Linked DNA regions of Homo sapiens. The protein of the gene in region 2 interacts with the protein of the main gene of each other region in a biochemical or structural test. Each region holds a gene or a part of one and is shown on either strand. Other genes may lie near its edges.

Region 1 (3,808 bases), on a different chromosome or scaffold from region 2:
TGCTGGGCTGGGAGCTGGGCCATGGGTCCACCTGCCTGTACCCGACACCCCAGGCAGTGGGTCCACCCAGCCCATCTCCAGCACCCCGGGCAGTGGGTCCATCCCACCCATCTCCAGCACCCCAGGCAGTGGGTCCATCCCACCCATCTCCAGCACCCCAGGCAGTGGGTCCACCCCACCCATCTCCAGCATCCCGGGCAGTGGGTCCACCCTGCCCATCTCCAGCACCTCAGGCAGTGGGTCCACCCTGCCCATCTCCAGCACCCCGGGCAGTGGGTCCATCCCACCCATCTCCAGCACCCCAGGCAGTGGGTCCACCCTGCCTATCTCCAGCACCTCAGGCAGTGGGTCCACCCCACCCATCTCCAGCACCCCAGTCAGTGGGTCCACCCTGCCTATCTCCAGCACCTCAGGCAGTGGGTCCACCCTGCCTATCTCCAGCACCCCAGTCAGTGGGTCCACCCCGCCTATCTCCAACACCCCGGGCAGTGGGTCCACCCAGCCCCATCTCCAGCACCCCAGGCAGTGGGTCCACACTGCCTATCTCCAGCACCCGGGCAGTGGGTCCACCCAGCCCCATCTCCAGCACCCCAGGCAGTGGGTCCACACTGCCTATCTCCAGCACCTCAGGCAGTGGGTCCACCCCGGGCATCTCCAGCACCCCAGGCAGTGTGTCCACCCAGCCCATCTCCAGCATCCTGGGCAGTGGGTCCACCCAGCCCCATCTCCAGCACCCCAGGCAGTGGGTCCACCCTGCCCATCTCCAGCACCCCGGGCAGTGGGTCCACCCAGCCCATCTCCAGCACCCCGGGCAGTGGGTCCACCCTGCCCATCTCCAGCACCCCAGGCAGTGGGTCCACCCCGCCTGTCCCCAGCCCTGTATGTGGGGTCCTGGCCTCTGGCCTGGGGAAGGGTCCTGGGCAGCCGAGTTGAGATGGCTCCAGGGAGCGTCAGCCCACAGTTTAGCTATTGAAGTGCCCAAAGTCCATCTCTCTGAGGCCTCCGAGCCTGGGAATGGACGTCCTCCTGCCCGAGTTACTCGCCTCCATGCTTTGCTTATTAGGGGTCACCCTCCCTGGTAACCAGGGTCTCACAGCGCCGCCCAAGACCCCCCGTGGCAGGCCAGCAGCGGCCGCAGAGGCCGCCTATCCCCCGCTGGCTGGCTCCAGGTACCGCGTGCAGGCAGAGGCCCATCTATTCTGCACGGTCCTGCTCTTCCTACCAGCAGCCTCTCCTGGCCTCCGTTTCCCAGGTAACACCAGCTCTGCCGGGACTTGGTCTGCAGCATTCCTGTGCCTCGGAGGTCCCACTCCCGGGGCGGCCCTCCCTCCTGGTTGGGGCCTGGGGCCGCCCTCTGCATCTGGCTCTGAGATGGGCCTTTGCGACATTCCCATCCCTCCACTGGAGGGTCTGCTCCCCCCGTCCCCAGGGTCTCAGGTGGGCTGCAGGTAGCTGGGAGGTGGCCGGCCCTTCCCTGGGTGTGCAGGGGCGAGGACAGGCTCACCCTCTTCCATTGTCTAAGTGGATGATGAACGTTTCATTCCCAAACTTCTCAAAAGTCTCGTAGTGGTGACGGTCCATGTTTCCTGCGGAGAGAGGCAGAAAGTGTCACAGCTCGTGGGGAGCCGGGCCACGTAGCTCAGAGGCCTCTGTGCTCTGCAGAGCGGCGTCTCCTCCTGCCAGCGTGACCTCTAAGCAATCTGGCCCCTTCACAGGCCACAGGACCGCAGCCGGGCCGTGCCACGGAGTGTGCCCTGCAGAGCCCTGCGTGCATCCGCTCCACGCAAGGCGAGTGACACGGGGACCCCGTGCCCCTGCGGGACGTACCCATGAGGAAGTCGAAGATCGTCATGTCCATGACGTCCAGGATGCGGTGGCTGCTGTCGTAGGGCGGTGTCTGCTTCACCTCCTCGCAGTAGTCAGGGTCCACCTCCCACCTGCGGGGAGCCAGCGTGAGACGGGGGGCCCAGGCCAGATTCTGGGGAGCCCGGCGCGTGCCATGAGGAGCAGAAGAGAAACACTGCGGCAGGGACCTTGGCGTCTGCAGATGGACCCGCCCGGGCTGCGGCGCTGAGGCTGCATTAGCGGGAGCACGGGTGTGGGAGGGGACGGAGCCGCTCTGCCCTGCCTCGGGGTGACCCCACCTGGAGCTGCCTTCACCTCTGGGCCCCGTGTTTTTTGCAGAGTCTCTGTGGGGAAACAGGACCTGGACTACACACTCACGAGGACAACGTGGGGCGGAAAGAACAGGGGCCGTTTCTCCCGCAGGAGTGAGGAGAGGGACGGGGCGAGAGCAGAGCTCAAACGCTGAGAGGCCCCGATTCGAGGGACCTGGTGGGCAGGCCGGCCCGGGTCAGGGAAGCACATGGAAATACTGGAGTAAGGACGCCCTCTGCCACCGTCTCATCAGGAAGCGGTCATCTCACACAGGCCAGCATCGCACAGCAGGCTCTGCACCCATCTCTGCCACCCCCGTGGGCGCCGACCCTCCCATGCCCGCCCAGGCCCAGCTCCCTCTGCCGTAGGGTGGCCGGACGCCAGCCCCCCGGCCCCGCACTCACTCGGCCTTCTTGCGCTTGTGGTAGGAACGCCGCCAAGGGTTCCGCCAGGTCTTCCTCTTGGCCAGGGACAGGTCGGGCAGGAAGGCCGCCAGCGAGCCCTCGATCTGGTCTGGCTTCCCGCACAGGGCGTGCTCCGTGGAGCAGTAGTAGGAACACTCGCCGTAGAAGCAGATGTTGTTGGCTGGGGAGGGACAGGCTGCGGGTTACCAGGGCCGCACAGGGCTGCGTCCTCACCTGTGGTCTCACGGCCCCCAAGGCCGGGCCGGGCTCTGCCTGGTGCTTCTCATGGGCAGGACTCACCCACAGTTCCCCATCAATCCCAGCAAACACCTCCACCCCACGGTACAGAAAAATGAACCCACAGAGCTGACGTCCCGAGGCCACACAGCTCCCCAGAGGCAGAGCCCGGCCTGAACCCTCGAAAATCAGGGGCTGGTCTATGGAAACCCTAGGGCCAACATTTAGTCTTTTAAAAAATGCATTCATATTGTCAAGAAAGTGAAGATACAATCCACAGAATGGTAGAAAACGTTTGCAAACCGCACATCTGAGGATCTAGCATTTAGAGTGTATGAAGAACTCTCATCACTCAATCACAAAAAGACAAAAAAAACTAATAAATGGGCAGAGGGCTTGAACAGCTGATTCTCCAAAGACGACCCTGATGGCCGACAAGCATGAGAAGAGACGGGCGCCATCGTGAGTCACCGGGGAGATGCAAATCAAAGCCACGGTGAGGCACCATCTCCTGTCTGCTGGGATGGCTTCCATCAAAAGAGCAGCTGCCGGCTGGGACGGGGGAACCGCCACCTCTGTGCGCTGCTGGCGGGGGGTGCACACGGCACAGCCACGGCGGAAACGGTCTGCAGCCCCCAACTGATTAAACACAGTGTTTCCACGTGACCCAGGAACTCCCCTCCCATGTAAACCCCTAAGAGAAGAGAAAACATTTCTATACAAAAACTCAGACACGAATGCTCACAGCAGCACCGCTCACCACAGCCGAAAAAGAGAGAATCCACCCAAATGTCCATCAAGAGAGGAGTGGACACGCCAGGTGAACATGGTCCATCCGTGCGATGACACGAAACGAAATGAAACAAGAAGAGGAATGAAGCCCTCACTGAACCCGAGAACCCTGTGCTCCGCGAAGGAGGCCAGACAGAGGAGGCCACACGTCGTATGACCCTCTTAATATGAAACGCCCAGAACAGGCAAATCCAGATAGACTGGGGGTGGGACGCTGC
Region 2 (3,808 bases):
TACAGCAGTTTGACAGTGTATGCAATGGTTTACACGGCAAGCTATGAAACTTCAAATGAGACTTAAAATGTTCAGTAAAAAATAGATTGCAACTTTGCAACCAAAATAAAGATGACTTAACAACAACAAAAGAACAACAACAACAAAAAGGCCAGGCATGGTGGCTCAAGCCTATGATCCTAGCACTTTGGAAGGCAGAGGTGGGAGGATCGCTTGAGCCCAGGAGTTCAAGCTTGCAGTGGGCCACGACTGCACCACTACACTCCAGCCTGGGGGACAGGGGGAGACCCTGTCTCAAAACAAAAAAACTAAAAACAAAAGAACACCCTGAGGATCACAGCTCCCCCGTGTGTCCTGTGAGGGTGGGGCGATGGGAGTGGGGAAGGGCCTGGGGTCCAGCCCCACCCTGGCTGTGCCTCCCGCATCCCTGCAGGGACTTCCAGCTGCTCATTTGCCTGGGGATCCGGTCACCTGTGGATATCCAAACACCAGGTGTCCTGAGCTTCGCTGCCCCATCACACAGGCTGGGGACCATCTGAGGCCCACAGAGGCACCTCCCACCTCACTGTCCTATCCACCTGCTCATCAAGTCCTACCCCATGTGTTGCCTTCTCAGTGCCTGCCCAGGACTCTCGGCCAGGCTGGGGTGGGGGCAAAAAGGGGACTGGGGCTAACAGATCCCCCACGCCAACTCCACGCCTCATAGGTACCAAGAGTTCTGCGGGGGTCAACAGCATCCAACCAACTGCCTGATCAGTCAGGCCCCCCACCTTCAGAAGGGTGTCAAATCAAGGCCATTTGTACACAAACCCTAGGGCAGCTGAGCAGCCCTGGAACACTGTGAGTCAGGAGGATAATGTGGGCCAACCGAAGCCACGCCTGCTTCTTCCATCCCAGACCGCCAACAGCTGTGAGCAGCTCTGAGATCCAAAAATTACCTCTGACCAGTACCACACTGGACACCCACCCAAGCAGAACAGGCACTCGCTGGTAACTCGACACTGGGCTGTGGGGGATCAAGAGAGAAGCAGGGCCTCAGGGGACCTGGAATCTTCTCTCCCAGATCATTTCCTGTTGTTTCGGAGGAGTTTCAATCAACCAGTCTCAATCTGACCCCTGCATCTGACCATGTGAGTTAGATCCAAAGCATAATATTAGATATAAACCAAGAGCAAACTCTTGCAAAATCTCGTTAACCTTCAACTCGAATGTTCCCAGGGAAGGCAACGCTGCGGGTTAAAACTGCTCAGCCTTGAATCCAGCTCCCTCCCTTACTAAGACTCAAGGAGGCTCACTTCCTTCATCTGTAAAAATGGGGGAAGAGGCCGGGAGCAGTGGCTCATGGGTGTAATCTCAGCACTTTGGGAGGCTGAAGTGGGCAGACATCACTTCAGTCCAGGAGTTCGAGACCAGCCTGGCCAACATGGTAAAACCCAGTCTCCACTAAAAATACAAAAATTAGCTGGGCATGGTGGCGGGCACCTGAAATCCCAGCTACTCAGGAGGCTGAGGTGAGAGAATCACTTGAACCCGGGAGGCAGAGGTTGCAGTGAGCCAAGATCGTGCCACTGTACTCCATCCTGGGTGACAGAGTGAGACTGTCTAAAAAAAAAAAAAAAGCCAGGCATGGTGGCTCATGCCTGTAATCCCAGCACTTTGAGAGGCCGAGGCAGGTGGATCACCTGAGGTTGGGAGTTTGAGACCAGCCTGACCAACATGGAGAAAGCCCGTCTCTACTAAAAATACAAAATTAACCAGGCATGGTGACGTATGCCTGTAATCCCAGCTACTCGGGAGGCTGAGGCAGGAGAATCACTTGAACCCAGGAGGCAGAGGTTGCAGTGAGCTGAGATCATGCCATTGCACTCTAGCCTGGGCAACAAGAGCGAAACTCTGTCTCAAAAAAAAAAAAAATGGGGGAAGATTGATGAGATAATCCAGGAAAAGTGCTTACATTAGCACACTGACCACAGGAAAAAACAGAAGCTTCAAAATTAAACAAAAGGAAAAGTTATCACACCAGGATTGGGAGAACATTCTTTTTCAAAGGAACCACACACTCCTCCAGGCTGACACGGTGCCCGATGGCCAACACGCCACCACATCCACCACCTCTCTTCAGGAGAGACACATGCCTGCCGGAGTAACTGGTGCAGATGGATGGAGCTGGCTCAGTTCACAGGCCTCAGATACCGTTTGTTGCCTGGGACAGCTGCTAAAACTAAATTTTTTCCAGGTGAGTTAAACCTCCATAAAGATTATGGTGTAGATCAGCGGCATGCCCCATGTTCCAAGGCATGCAGAGAAACACAGGTCACATGGCCTGCGGGGACCATGCCCTGGACACCCAGGAAGGATATGGCCACGTGCTCTTTCTAAGACTACAGATGCTCAGAGAGATTCTGTACCACTCCTTGGGTGGAAGCTTCCAGAATGTCAGCCTGCTAGCTGTAAACATCGCAGAAGCTTTGGGCAATGCCTGATCCCATCCCCAGCAGCCTGTGAGCCACGAGGATCTTAATTCCCAGGTTGCTGAGCAAGCAGACTGTCACAGAGGGGAGACTGGGGGCTGGGAACCGGGAGGCCTGGAGTCTGCTTCTGATCTCATGGTTGAGAGTTTTCCCACCCGGAGCAAGTCCGGGCCTCAGTTTTTTCATTTATAAACTGAATGGAGGATTTGGCCTGCAGTTAAGAGCAGGCTTCCCCAATCCCACCCTGTGTAAGGGCATTGCTCTGGCAAAATTTCCACTGGGTTGCAACAAAATAGGGTGAAAGCAAAGCAGGATCCAGGGACCTCTACAAAGCCGGCCCGATTCCATCTACAATACTGTCTTTTATTGTGAGACCGCGTCCTTCCAAAATCCGGGGCATTAAAATGTCCCCTACCTCTGTGAAGTGGTGACGATATGAGATGGTGGTTGAATGGGTGTCTGTTTTTTATTTTAATATCCTCATCGGGCAAATGAGGATATTTTAAGTTGGCAAAGCTCCGTGAATAGCTGGGGATGAAGTAAAGGCATGTGATCAGAAGCCAGCCTCAATTTCCTTGATTTCCTCTGCTCAAGCTCAAAAACTCAGAGGCAGCTGAGGGCGTCAGGAGTTTTTAAAAGTGAATGGGAGCTTGAGGCTTCATCCTGTGTGCCTCCCGGACTCACCACACAAAAGGATCATGCCCCCACCCCACCTGCCCCACAGCATTGTCTAAAGCTACAGCAAAGAGTTGGAGTGGCCTCCGTGGTGTCCAGAACCAAGGAACCGAAAAGCCTGAAATGCAACAAGATGTCAACCACAGAGACCCTGATGGAAAGTTCCAACCAAACAGGACTGGGCGACTCCACCCAACCCCCACCTGCACCCTGCCCCTCCTGAGTAGCTGGGATTACAGGCGCCTACCACCACGCCTGGCTAATTTTTTGTATTTTTAGTAGAGACGGAGTTTTACTATGTTGTCTGGGAAGCCACCAGGGGTCCAGCCAGATTGGCCTATGTCCCTGCATCCCTTACAGTTCCAGGATGAGGACAGACTCGTGTCCCCTCTTCAAGACCACCTGGCCTCTGCAGGAGGAAGCAGGGCGAACTGGAGCCTGCTCTTAGGGCTCCTGGCCCCATCCCCAACACAAGACCTGACTGTGTCCACTGCTGAGCCTGTTCCCAGCATCTGTCATGGAGATGACAGGGGTCTTGGATGGTGAACCAGCCGGGAGGAGGCAGCAAGAGAGAAGGAGCAGAAGGTACCTCTCTGGGAAGGCGAGAAGCATTCTCCCCACAGTTCCCTCCAGGCAGCTCTGGCCCCGGCAGCAACTTCCTA

What was found.
Region 1: of the proteins of FBLN1 (region 2) and FAM20C, one has a biochemical effect on the other in vitro, tested with the Homo sapiens proteins (one large-scale study listed by IntAct).

What each region holds. Positions count from the first base shown.
Region 1 is NC_000007.14:254,783-258,590, reverse strand, and holds part of FAM20C (extracellular serine/threonine protein kinase FAM20C precursor), read right to left. Parts: intron 2,743-3,808; coding exon 2,562-2,742; intron 1,938-2,561; coding exon 1,828-1,937; intron 1,587-1,827; coding exon 1,505-1,586; intron 1-1,504. UniProt on the Homo sapiens protein: Golgi serine/threonine protein kinase that phosphorylates secretory pathway proteins within Ser-x-Glu/pSer motifs and plays a key role in biomineralization of bones and teeth.
Region 2 is NC_000022.11:45,509,264-45,513,071, reverse strand, and holds part of FBLN1 (fibulin-1 isoform D precursor), read right to left. Parts: intron 1-3,808. UniProt on the Homo sapiens protein: Incorporated into fibronectin-containing matrix fibers. May play a role in cell adhesion and migration along protein fibers within the extracellular matrix (ECM).